4 separate regions of the Homo sapiens genome follow, and all the other regions are reported to be linked to region 3. Evidence: microRNA targets listed by miRTarBase, many of them from high-throughput screens and not tested one by one. Region 3 holds a microRNA gene; each other region holds the end of a gene's coding sequence. Distances are between the middles of the regions.
What was found. Region 3 holds the annotated microRNA hsa-miR-561-3p (CAAAGUUUAAGAUCCUUGAAGU, at 1,533-1,554, opposite strand). A microRNA usually pairs through its seed, bases 2 to 8, with sites in the 3' UTR of a target mRNA and lowers its output. Matches are read on the target gene's strand: a 7mer-m8 pairs with bases 2 to 8, a 7mer-A1 pairs with bases 2 to 7 and ends in A, and an 8mer does both.

Region 1: miRTarBase lists SPIC as a target of hsa-miR-561-3p. Seed matches in the 3' UTR shown: 7mer-A1 at 707-713.
Region 2: the mRNA of ARL4C is a reported target of hsa-miR-561-3p. Seed matches in the 3' UTR shown: 7mer-m8 at 1,600-1,606.
Region 4: the mRNA of TSC22D2 is a reported target of hsa-miR-561-3p. Seed matches in the 3' UTR shown: 7mer-m8 at 1,090-1,096 and 7mer-m8 at 2,017-2,023.

What each region holds. Positions count from the first base shown.
Region 1 is chr12:101,486,207-101,489,390 of GRCh38, forward strand. It overlaps SPIC (Spi-C transcription factor), which reads left to right. Exons shown (of 6, transcript NM_152323.3): 6 at 138-791. The coding sequence ends at 565. Among named protein-coding and RNA genes, the nearest start is that of SPIC, 12 kb to the left of the region's middle.
Region 2 is chr2:234,493,217-234,496,400 of GRCh38, reverse strand. It overlaps ARL4C (ARF like GTPase 4C), which reads left to right. Exons shown (of 2, transcript NM_001282431.2): 1 at 1-389; 2 at 565-3,184. The coding sequence ends at 595. Among named protein-coding and RNA genes, the nearest start is that of ARL4C, 2.3 kb to the left of the region's middle.
Region 3 is chr2:188,295,922-188,299,105 of GRCh38, reverse strand. MIR561 (microRNA 561) reads right to left here and starts at 1,614; the gene lies at 1,518-1,614. The region is part of intron 1 of GULP1 (GULP PTB domain containing engulfment adaptor 1); the gene reads right to left. RefSeq lists enhancers at 1-164, 1-494.
Region 4 is chr3:150,458,312-150,461,495 of GRCh38, forward strand. TSC22D2 (TSC22 domain family member 2) reads left to right here. Exons shown (of 3, transcript NM_001303264.2): 3 at 65-3,184. The coding sequence ends at 325. Among named protein-coding and RNA genes, the nearest start is that of TSC22D2, 52 kb to the left of the region's middle.

The DNA.
Region 1 (3,184 bases), not on the chromosome of region 3:
ATTCGTAAGGGCAGTGAGTGGGAGAAAAACCAGTCTCGATGCAGCTTTTAATTCAGTAGTTGCTCAACAAACCCTTTCTGAGGATGTTCTCGGTTTACAGCCACGGTGGAGTTTGACCTTGTTTCCCTTCATTTTAGGCAGGAAGAAGCTCCGACTGTTTGAATACCTTCACGAATCCCTGTATAATCCGGAGATGGCATCTTGTATTCAGTGGGTAGATAAAACCAAAGGCATCTTTCAGTTTGTATCAAAAAACAAAGAAAAACTTGCCGAGCTTTGGGGGAAAAGAAAAGGCAACAGGAAGACCATGACTTACCAGAAAATGGCCAGGGCACTCAGAAATTACGGAAGAAGTGGGGAAATTACCAAAATCCGGAGGAAGCTGACTTACCAGTTCAGTGAGGCCATTCTCCAAAGACTCTCTCCATCCTATTTCCTGGGGAAAGAGATCTTCTATTCACAGTGTGTTCAACCTGATCAAGAATATCTCAGTTTAAATAACTGGAATGCAAATTATAATTATACATATGCCAATTACCATGAGCTAAATCACCATGATTGCTAAATATACTTTCATATTTCATGGTTTACTGGCATCGGAAATCTCTACAAGTTTTAATGATTTCTCCCTCCCTCTCTTTTTTTCCTCCTCTGAAGAAATTTAGGATTTTTCTCTTAAAGCAAATACTAAAGAGGAAAAAAAATTAACTTTATTGTTGCTTTTATCAAAGAGTATGTAATCTATACTAACTTGTTGGGAAATTCTGCCAATGAACAACTTTTTTATAATACTTTGTGAAGATTCAATGAACAACTTTATTGTTTCAAATGATCAAGCCCATTTGAAAGTATAGACTAAGGTCCTTGCTCTGCTCTTACTGTTCTCTCTCTATTAAAATTTTTATTTTTTTATTTTATTATTTTTTAAAGATGTCTCAGCCAAGATAATTTTTTATTTTTATGGATTTAGGAGTACAAGTGCAGTTTTGTTGCTTTGATATATTGCATAGTGGTGAAATATGCATCCTCATCACCAGAATAGTGAACACTGTACCCAATAGGTAGGATTTCATCCCTCATCCCCCTGGCATCCTCCCACCTTTCAGAGCCTCCAGTGTCCATTACTCCATTCTGTATGACCATTGCTAAGCTCCCAACTATACCCATTTTATTTTATTTTAAAAATTGTTTTCTTTTGCTGCATACTTCAATGGATGCAAAGTCTTTTTCTTTTTTCTTTTTTTCTTTTCTTTTCACAGACGATGACTTCTTTTTTTGTTTGTTTGTTTGTTTTTGGCTGCTAACTCCCAAGCACAACACTGACAGTGACTTATATTTTTAATTTTTTTTTTTTTTTTTTTTTTTGAGACGGAGTCTCGCTCTGTCGCCCAGGCTGGAGTGCTGTGGCGCAATCTCGGCTCAGTGCAAGCTCCGCCTCCTGGGTTCATGCCATTCTCCTGCCTCAGCCTCCCGAGTAGCTGGGAGTACAGGTGCCCGCCACCACGCCCGGCTGATTTTTTTGTATTTTTAGTAGAGACGGGGTTTCACTGTGTTAACCAGGATGGTCTCGATCTCCTGACCTCATGATCCGCCCGCCTCGGCCTCCCAAAGTGCTGGGATTACAGGCGTGAGTCACCGCGCCCGGCTATTTTTAATTTTTTTAAGAGGCAAAGCCTACCTCTGAAGCTCTCTCTTTTTTTCTTTTCACACTTCAATAAGCTGGTTTAAATTCTTGCTATTCTCTATGCAACCACCTTCTTCTAGATTAACAGTGCCAGTACAGATGATTTGATTTATATATTGATTTCAGCATTTTCTTGTCATGTACTCAGGTGAGAAAATTCACACTTTTATATGATGGCTTTACAAAAAAATTTTGTAAATGACTGCATATGATAAAGCCTTTGTGCCAAAATGGGTTCATAGCTTTAAAAACATCACTAGAAATGTCTGTTCAGCTTCCTTACACATTTTTTTATTTCCTTCTCTTTTGATCTTACCCATTTTTACAACTTAAAGCTTTTTTTTTTTTTTTTTTTTTGAGACAGGGTCTCACTCTGTCACCTATGCTCAGGTGCAGTGACACAAACATGGATGAAGCCCAGCTAATTTTTTTTTTTTTTTTTTGTAGAGACTGTTTTGCCATGTTGCCCAGGCTGGTCTCTAACTCCTGGGCTCAGGTGATCTGCCCACCTTGGCCTTCAGAAGTGCTAGGATTACAGGTGTGAGCCACCGAGCTGGCCCCAAAACTTTTTTAATGTTTAAGTTTTACCACTGTACTAAGGAGGAGTTACCCATTTTTTTAATTGCCTTTTTTCTTCCTTCTTATTAGGGAGGGGTAAGGAAGAAGACTTTGTCAGCAGAAAGCAGGTCTTAATTGCTTTTTTGTTTGTTTGTTTTGTTGCTATTGAGTTGTTTGAGTTCCTTATATGTATTGGATATTAAACCCTTGTCAGATGTCTGGCTTGCAAATGTTTTCTCCCATTCCATAGGCTGTCTCTTTACTCTGGTGATTATTTCCTTTGCTGTGCAGAAGCTTTTTAGTTTGTTTGTTTTAGCTACACGTCATGAACTAAGAAGCTTTTTAGTTTGATGTGATACCATTTGTCTATATTTAATTTTGTTGTCCATGCTTTCGGGATCAAATCCAAAATATCACTACCCACACCAATGTCTTATATGTTTCCCCTATGTTTTCTTTCTTTCTTTTCTTTCTTTCTCTCTCTCTCTTTCTTTCTTTCTTCTTGTAATCATTAGAGAAATGCAAATTAAAACCACAATAAGATATAATCTCTCACCTGTCACAACGTCTTAAAATGTTTATTATTATGTTTTTAATCATCCTGTACTTTATTTCAAAACAATGTTTTCAAATGAAGACACAAAAGATAAGTGTTGGTAAGGATGTAGAGCAAAGGAAACACTTGTACACTGTTGGTGGAAATGTAAATTGGTGTAGCCATTATGGAAAATGGTATGGAAATTCCACCCCCCCCCGAAAAAAAACTAAAAATAGAATTATATGATCTAGAAATCCCACTTCAGTGTATTAATGCAAAAGACTCGAAATCAGTTTGTGGAAGGGATATCTGCATTCCTATGTTCATTGCAACACTACGCACAATAGCCAAGTTAGGGAATCAATCTCTGTCTATCAACAGATGAATGGATTAAAAAAATGTAT
Region 2 (3,184 bases), 46 Mb from region 3:
AGCTGCCACTTCTGGGACGTGGGCGGCCAGGAGAAGCTGCGGCCGCTGTGGAAGTCCTACAGCCGCTGCACGGACGGCATCATCTACGTGGTGGACTCGGTGGACGTGGACCGGCTGGAGGAGGCCAAGACGGAGCTGCACAAGGTGACCAAGTTCGCCGAGAACCAGGGCACGCCGCTGCTGGTCATCGCCAACAAGCAGGACCTGCCCAAGTCGCTGCCGGTGGCAGAGATTGAGAAGCAGCTGGCGCTGCACGAGCTTATCCCGGCCACCACCTATCACGTCCAGCCGGCGTGCGCCATCATCGGCGAGGGCCTCACCGAGGGCATGGACAAGCTCTATGAGATGATCCTGAAACGCAGGAAGTCCCTCAAGCAGAAGAAGAAGCGGTAATGCGCCCGGAGCGACCGGGGAGCGAGCGAGTGCGTCAAGAAAGAATGAATGGATGGATGGATGGTTGGATGGATGGATGGATGGATGAGCGAGAACCCGCGCCCGCGAACAAAGAGCGAACCAAAGCGATGCTTCGAATTTTTAAAACGGAATCTCTGCACCCAAATGCAGGACTGGTGACTTAAGGAGCTGCGAAGTCTGATTTACCGGCCTACTCTCGACCTGCCCCCCACCCCCAGCTCAGGGGACCTTTTGTCTGAACGCCAGAGCTACTGACCAGGTCGGGGGGCCGCGGTGGGGAGTGGAAGAGCCGGTCCTGCTGTCCGCCCTCCCAGCCCCAGGTGGAAGGCTCAGTTGTCGGAAAGACAAAAGCGATTTCTTCCCACTCCTGCAGGGCCAGAAGTTCAGGCTGCCCCGCCTCCACTGGGGGATCGCACCTGTGAATTACCTGAGGTATGCATTTCCCAGAACCGTGGGCGTACCCACCTTGGGGGGCATGTTGGTTCTGGGGGGACCACCTCTCCTTGCATTCAGGGGCTGTGAAGCTGAGTAATTTTCGGTCACAGGGCAGGCCCCTGTTGAAATTTCATTTGTCCTGCTCTGGGCCCAAAGGTGGTGGTGGTTTGGGTCATCAGAGGACTGCCTGGGACGGTTCAGCGGGCACGGAGCGCTGTGCTGGCCTGGCTGGGGATGGCCGCGGAGGTGCCCTTTTCCTGGTGCTTTGTGGTGGCTGCAGAAGACCAGTTTTGTTGAGAACTGCTTTTCAGCCTGGAATCAGACATCTTCCAGATGGTTTGGACCCTGTCCATGTGTAGGTCATTATCACACAAAGAGACCAATAAAAATAAAAAAAATAAAAAAAAAAAAAGACGAACTATTGGAGGTGGTGGCCAATGATGCATTTACTGTTTGCAGGATAGTTAAAGGTGTTTAAAGGGTAAGGCTTTTGGTGTAAATGCTGGATGGGGTGTGTGTGTGTGTGGATATAGGGACCTCCCTCTGTACTGTGTACTGTGTAATCGGCATTAATACCTAGACTCATATGTATGGAATTTTAAATTCTCTTAGCCTACTGATTGGTTTGGATGAGCACACCAGCTGCAGGTGTGTGCTGAATTGCAAGATGGTATTTTTTTTTTTAACCAAGGGATGTCTCTTGTAATACTAACCGCGTGATAATGGGTTTTCAGACATGATGAAAAAAAAAAACTTTTACAAATGAATACTTACCTTAGAAATATTCACCTTAGGAAAAAAGACTTTGCTCTGCCCTTTTATATTCCTTTATGCTGCAAGTGGTGACATGTTCAGATTTCTAATTTGGTTCATTGTGGCCTATCTGGTTTAAGTCTTTCATTAAAAATGTCTCGTTAGAGTATTTGATGTCATGCACCAAAAAAATAAAACCCCACCTTGTTGCAAAAGCTGACCTCGTTGCATGGAATTAAAAGAGAAGGAAAAACACAAGGATGAAGTCTTTCCGAATTCATTCTTGTGGGAACTGGCCTTCGGAGCCAGCCAGCACTTTGGGCAAATGCAAACAACAATGAGTGCTTGAGATAAAAGAAAGTGTGACGTCATGGTCACTGGTACTCAGGCACTTCACAGTTTACTTGAAAGAGGCTTTGGAAAATAGATAAAGTGAAAGAAGAATAAATACATATTTTTAATAATGTAATTTTAAAAATCCTTTATAATCAGGACTGAGTCTTGGTTTGCAGAAGCTGTCACTTACCCTGAAACACAGTATCAAAAGGGAAACTTAAAACATACTGTTTGATTTTTTTATTTCCTCTTACAATCCATGTTTTCAGGTAGAATTATGACTTTCCCCCCATTGTTACACATTTCTTTACAAAGGAGGCCTGTAGAAATTGGACACGATCATGCTTGAGCATGTGAGTTAGTCAAATTATGAGTCCCTGCCTATTGTCCATTACACACCGAATGTTAATTTAAGAACCAGAGGCAGAAGTTCTGGCTTCCTGCTTGAAACCCAATTCTTATATGAAATTTTTTAAAAGCAGAAACCTAGCAGCCCATCTGCTTTTTCTCTTTTGTCGGTGTATTTGGTACCCCTCCAATGCTGGTCTTTTTGTAGAAACTCAGTAGAGAAAGTCTAGCTAAGCAGTGTTGAAAAGCCTGCAAGATTTCAGTTTACATATCGACAGCATATCCACTGATTTCTAAATGGGCTGGTCCCATCATCTGAAGATTCTGTATAGAATTATTAAAAAAAAAATCCATCTTTCTTTATTTTCTTCACATGCGACAATTTCTTAAGCACTTTGACATTTTGGTAGTTCCACACTATTGAGAGAATAATATATTTATTTTGTGACATTGCAGATGCCAAATACTGTAACCTTCTCATGATAACAATACTTAGGTTCAAGATCACTGTTCAAACCCTGTCATGCTTTAAAACTGATGCGAGATGATTTTGTTTTTTGCATAATCAATACTTAAGGGTGCAATCAACTGTTAGTAATTGTGCAGTAAAGTAAAGCCCTGTGGTGTATCAACTACTAGTTAAGAGTCTCAGTTGATTTCTGTAATGTTTGACCTAATAATAGCCCGTTTCGTCTCTGACCCAACAGAGGAAGCACAGATCAAATCACCTTGGAGTGGTCACCAGGGGGACAGGGAGCCCCCCACCAATGTATCAATGGGTGATTTATGATGCCTTCTGCCCTTTGGCGAGTGAATGGGTTTCCCATAGGGGAAGTTGGCCTCCCTCCGTGAGCTTTGGAAATGTTTTCTAATAGACACAGGGAGGCCAGTTCTGTTT
Region 3 (3,184 bases):
CACCCCGCCACTCCAGCTCATACCCCTGCTGTCTTTAAAATAGCCAGTTGGAATTATCTTAGACTGTGCGGTCCAACCCTACCCAATAGGGGAAAAACAAGCAGTAGGGACTAGCTGCATTAATAGTAAGATCCCCTTCTCCTCCCTTGTCTGGTGTGCTCTTGCCATTGCTCCATCCGTGAGAGGCACCCTTTTATAGAAGTAAATTGCCTTGCTGAGCAAACTTTTGCCTGAGTGCTATATTCACTTGGCAGCACCGAGCATTTACTTCCAACAACATCAAGTCTAAAATGTTGTTCTCTAAAACCTCATCTGTACTACTCTAGAAAATTTTATTTTTCCAAATTGATCATGAATTTCCTAGTCTGCTTAATGTAATCAGCTAAACCTATGATAACTCAGATTTTACAAATTTAGTAGTTCTTCCTTTAAAATGACTAAAGACATTAGCAATATGAGACCTCTTACTGATTTACTGCTAAGAAGCTTAAAGGTTTTTCTCCTACATATCCAGTCATGGTGATGCATTAAAACAGAAAAAATAATTCATAAAAATTTAAAGCAATAGCCATTGTTACTCTAAAACAATGCTATTTTATAAATCTAAAATACCAATAGACTTTTGCCATTTCATATTGCATTTACGTAATTTCAAATAAAATTTGTTTACTCAAATGTGACTCCTTAAAAATTCTCTCAAACTATATTCTGAGATACTACAATCCATAAACACCCTCTAATTATATTTAATTAACATATTCAGCATAGAGATAAATTGCTTTGAAATTAATTCAGTTATGCAATTGTTCTTTCTAATCAGCCAAACTTTCTCTGTATTTATTTGCACTACTAGTAAAGTTCAGTGTTTATGTTATTGGACATCTTTATGACTATAATAACACACATCATCAAGGAAGTAAAAGGAGAGTTTGATCATCAACCAAAGTCCTTTATTACTACACAGTTCCTCAAAGCAGACAAAAATAAAATAAATTACAGAGCATAACATGTAGTTTGACCTTCAAAGATACTTTACAAAATACTGTTTCTTAAAACTCTCATTAGTACTTATAACCCTATGTTTTAATTCACCTAGGTTGAAATCTGGGTAAATGAACCTATTTGCTATTAAAATTTTACTTAAAACATGGTATCTCTTGATGGTTATAAATGGCTATGAAAAAAATTGAGAAGCTAAAATCACATTTATTCTCTTATTTCAATTTTTTATCCCAAATTTGCACGTTTGCTACCATACTACAAATGTTCTGTTTGATTTTTTTTGGCTAAAATTATATTTAAAATTGATATTATCTAATTTAAATACAAACCAAATGAGAACAATAGTTATCACCTCATGAAATATTATACAGCTATAAACAGGCAAATCATTAATGATTCAGTCAGTAGATTATGTATGCTCTGAAATGATTGTCTTTATTTCTATAAGAGGGTAGACTGAAGACTGAGCCCACAGTATTCAGTCTCCTCTCTTATAGAAATAAGGATAGCCATCCATGGTTCCCCCAGGAACTTCAAGGATCTTAAACTTTGCCTTTGTAGCTCTGGCAAAGTTTAAGATCCTTGATGTTCCTGGAGGACTGGTGGATGAAGTTTCAAGAAATGGATCAACTGTAACACCTAATATTAAGAAAAAGCTGTACCATACCAGGAAAACACTACATTTGTATAAAATTCTCACTTCACAATACCTGATAAACTTATCAGTAGTATCTAACTTCTAAGTAGTGAATTTACCTTCTTACAGTAGTTAACTGTACATGTGCTTGTGTTCTACTTAAGAAGAGTAGAAAGGGCTTCCATGAGTATGCCATCATTAGAGCCTACAACAAAGAATGTAGGTAGAAGATCTTGCCAACTATTTTTCTCTTCTTTCGGAGGTATAAATAGAAGTCTAAAAACACTTTTAGAATTTGGAAAAAAGAAAAAAAAAAGGATTTCTAGGATTTCTAGCAATACTTATCTGGGAAACATTTTTAATTAGTTGTTAAAATTGGGCTCAAAAATATCAATTAACTGAAGCTATTTTTCCCTACAGAAAAACTATAGCACAAATAGAGAAACATCAAAGAATATATATGTATCATAAGTATGCACACACAGAAAGGGAGAAAGAAATGGAGACAGAGAGAGAGACAGACAAAGAGAGAGAGAACGACAGAGACAGAGAGACAGAGAGAAAGTAGTCCCCCAAAATATGGAAGTTTCTAAGGTCTATTCTGAACTTCTTCATCAGGAGGTATATGATACAGCTGATGTATAGGTACATTTATATAATGTTAATAGCAAAAAACAAACATGAAATAAAGGCAGGTATTGATATCTAGATGCACTCTCTTAGTTGCATCCTAGAAAATACATACAAGGCTATTCAAAACTTCCTTTAAAAAGCCATATTAATCTTTGCAATTTAGCACAAAATATACTGAAAATCTTAATTTCTATATAAGTTAACTTACTTATTCATATTATGTGTGCAAATTAGGGCAGCCTTTTCAAAACTATTTTTAAGTATACTACACTGAAAGACAAAACTAATTTCAAATTCGCCATAACTATACCATTTCAATGTAAACAGAAAATTGACACTTACTATCCCACACAATATTTGAGTCAATTAACTGTCCTCTGATGACAATCATGCATGGTAAGCATCATTAGAGTGGCTGAAAACATTTCTTAGGCATAAAACAAACAAAAAACTCGCAAATAACAAGGGCCTGAAAACAGTATAAGCATTGTTTTCTAAGTCTTACTCTGGAACAATGACTTTTAGCCATTCTCTTTAAAAATAAAGGCCTGATTTCAATTTCATATCCCCAGTATTTGAAAGTGAAGCGATTTCTCCATTCAAAGTTATACCATTTTTTCCTCTTCCAATCTGAGTATATTTTATGCTCTTATGGGAAAAAGCTTAAGTTTCCTGATCTCTAAATGCATTAAGGCAAACAATATTAGATCCACCAGCCTCTAATACGTTTAGGGACCAGGGCTCATGGCAGTTATGCAGTTAGCTTCTGTAACTATCTTTGAATTCATTATTATACTGAAATAAAATAACTTTTTTTATTCTTTAGAGGTTTTAGAAAACAAATTGCAATATCGCGAATTGAATCACAAATACATCACTCTGCTAAGTAAAATTTAAATTAAAATCACCTAC
Region 4 (3,184 bases), not on the chromosome of region 3:
AGAACCAGATAGCACCACCTTTATCTTTTCACTCTTTTGACATTCCTAATTTTGTTTTTCACAGGATCTGGTGAAAAGCCATTTGATGTATGCAGTAAGAGAAGAAGTGGAAGTTTTAAAGGAACAAATAAAAGAATTAGTTGAAAGAAACTCTTTACTTGAACGAGAAAATGCACTGTTAAAATCTCTTTCAAGCAATGATCAATTATCCCAACTCCCAACCCAACAGGCCAATCCTGGTAGCACTTCTCAACAGCAAGCAGTGATAGCACAGCCTCCGCAGCCAACGCAACCTCCACAGCAGCCGAATGTCTCCTCAGCATAAAGCTTTCTTAAGCCTCATTAAGAAAAAAACTGAAAGCAATCTATCCTTGTGTGCCACTGGTGTTCTTTCCACTTTATACGAAAGCAAGTAGCCATGCTTTGGTTGTGTGTTTGGCCTTTTCAGTATTAGACAATCATTCTACAAGAGCTTTTCCTCTCTCTGAGATGTCATGCAGCGCTGTTGATGTCCAGTTCTATGTCATCAGTACACAAGGAGAATAATAGATGGGGTTTATTAAAGCGAGCAAAGTCTGCATTTTACCTGGTGCGCATGAGTGGGGTCTTTAAGAGTTTTGGTGGCTCTCCCATGTTTCCTATTACCCATGGATTTACCCTGAGCCTTCCTATCACATTATAAATAACAGTTCATCTAAAGAGCCACTTTTCTTTCTGATTCAGTAACATTTGCCTACATAAGTTTTCATTTATTTGTGTTTTATTTATTACAGGGCTGCTATTTTCATAATGTACATGAACAATGTCACAGAACTTTTTTAATTTTTTTGAATAATTATAAGTATCAGTAAAGGAAGTGAAAGACAGGATTGCATTTAATAGATAAAACGTTTAGGCAATAATTGAACAAAAGAATCCTGGCATATTTCTAACACTAATGGCAATTTACTTATGGTATTTATTTTCAGTAGTAAAGACCCAGCTTGAATGTAAATTTTGTATAGTGTAAGTATGAAGAACATAGTGCAACTGTACAGGTAGTCACCAGTTATTGTGATATGATAAATAATTGGGCTATTTTGATGAAGAAAACTTTGTTCATTTGTTTCTACTTTCTAAGAGAAATTGCCACGATTCCTCTGCTTTTCAACATTTCGTATGACTTTTTTTTCGGGTGGGAATAAAAAGCTGTGAAATTGTTCAACCTACTTTGTAACCAAAGAAGCAAAGCTGTGTAATGGAGTTTGGTTTTTTTTTGTTGTTTTTTTTTTTTTGTCTTTTTTTTTTTTTATAATGCACATTCTTTATGTATTTTTATTTAGTGTTTTCTCAGTCACAATTTTCTTTACTGTCTAGCATGATCTGCATGACCTATAATCTTTGAACCACTTTCGTACCTCATGTTTTTATCCAGCACTCTTATTGTAATATGTACTAGTCTGTGAACAATGTCAAATAAAAGAGAACGAACAGGTAGTTTGGTGGAGCTGAGCTAGTGTACAATACACTAGTTGTAAAAAAAAAAAAAAAAAAAAGTGAGCCATCTTTTGTTCATTTAAAATGGTGTTTTGAATTTCGTATGCAGAAAACGTTTTGTTACATTGCAGATTTTAATGTATTTAATAAATGCAACATGCAGATTAAGTGCAGTGTATACTGAGTATTTAAATTAAAATGTACATTTCATAAATACAGTTTCAAAAGAAAGCATCATTTTGTGTATACTAACACATTAAGTGTATGTCAGAAATTGATGTATAAATATATATTTTAACATTTTCTGAAATTAAACTGCAGTTTTGTTGAAATATTTGGCTCTATATGTGTTCAAAATTTGACTAGATTTGTATTTTCACAGTTCAAAATACTCCTTAAAGACCTGTTAATAATGACTTACTGATAGTTCTTAAATTTTCAAAGTAAAACAATTTAAAGAATGCAAAAATAGTGAGCAATATTTGTACTCAATATTCATATTATGTTAGTGATACTTAAGTAGGAAATCCTTGTCTACCAAAACTTTTACTTGAATTCAGAAAGGTGCCTGTAGAAATTAACATGCACTGCATCTGTAGCCAGCTAGCTAATCAGAGTTAATGAGAACCAGTAGTTAGTTCTCCGTGTTAAAAGACTTATTTGAAGTAAAAATTTAATCAGATTAGCCACAAACAAACAAGGCATAAAATTGGGATGTACATGAGATTGCCAAATATTTTCTATTCTAGTTGTGCTGCAAGACATTGAACAAAATGTTAATGAATAACATTATAAATCAAGGAACTAAGTACATAGGCTTGAGTAAGCAACCCTAAGGATGTGTAGTAAGATTCCAAGTAGAGCTGCTACAGGTGAGATACTTAATGGAATGTGAAACTTCACTGTTGGACTGTTAACCGAAAAGGTTTGCTGGCTGTGCCCCTCCAGTGCTAACTGTGACATGTGATATTTAATACAGGTGGAGAAAAACTAGTCTTAGAAATGGGATTTTTGTGAAAATAGATTCCATTTTGATTCTGGGGCTGGAAAAACACTTCATAAACAAAGTAATAGTCTCCAAGGAAATGAATAATAAGGTTTAAAATGGTAACAGCAGTTATTACTACTTTTATATTAAGAAAAACAGTAGAAAAGGAGAGAAAATATGGGTAGTTCACAGAAGAGATAAATGGCAGTTTCTAAAGGTTCAACCTCTAGTAACCTAAGAAATGCAAATTAATGTTTTTGGCGAATTGTAATAAGTGTCCTAAGTAGCAGGACTTAACATAGAAAGAAAGACAGGCTTTCCTGTGTACTTTTAGAAAGTAATTTGGCAGTATGTATCTAGAGCCTTAAATAATAAGCTTTCCAGTGTAACGACAGGAGAAGATACTCAACTCATGGTCCATTGTTCAAAAATGCAGAATTATTGTGGTGTCTGCCCTCTGCTTTCCCATCATCCCCTCCCCTCAAAATCCAAACTATCCCTACTGTCAACCCTTCCCCCAGCTGATTGTTTAGGATCTTAAGTAACTTCCAATTCAGCTTTGGAGATTTAGTCTCCTGCTCCAAATAGTTGTAAATATTAACTGATTGAGATCCCAATTTGGAGGCACAGTCTTACAGGAATGCCATCTATCTAATTCTGTCAGTGTAATGCCCATAGAGCAAGGTCCCACATAAGCTTTTCTGTTTTAATTTAGCCGGT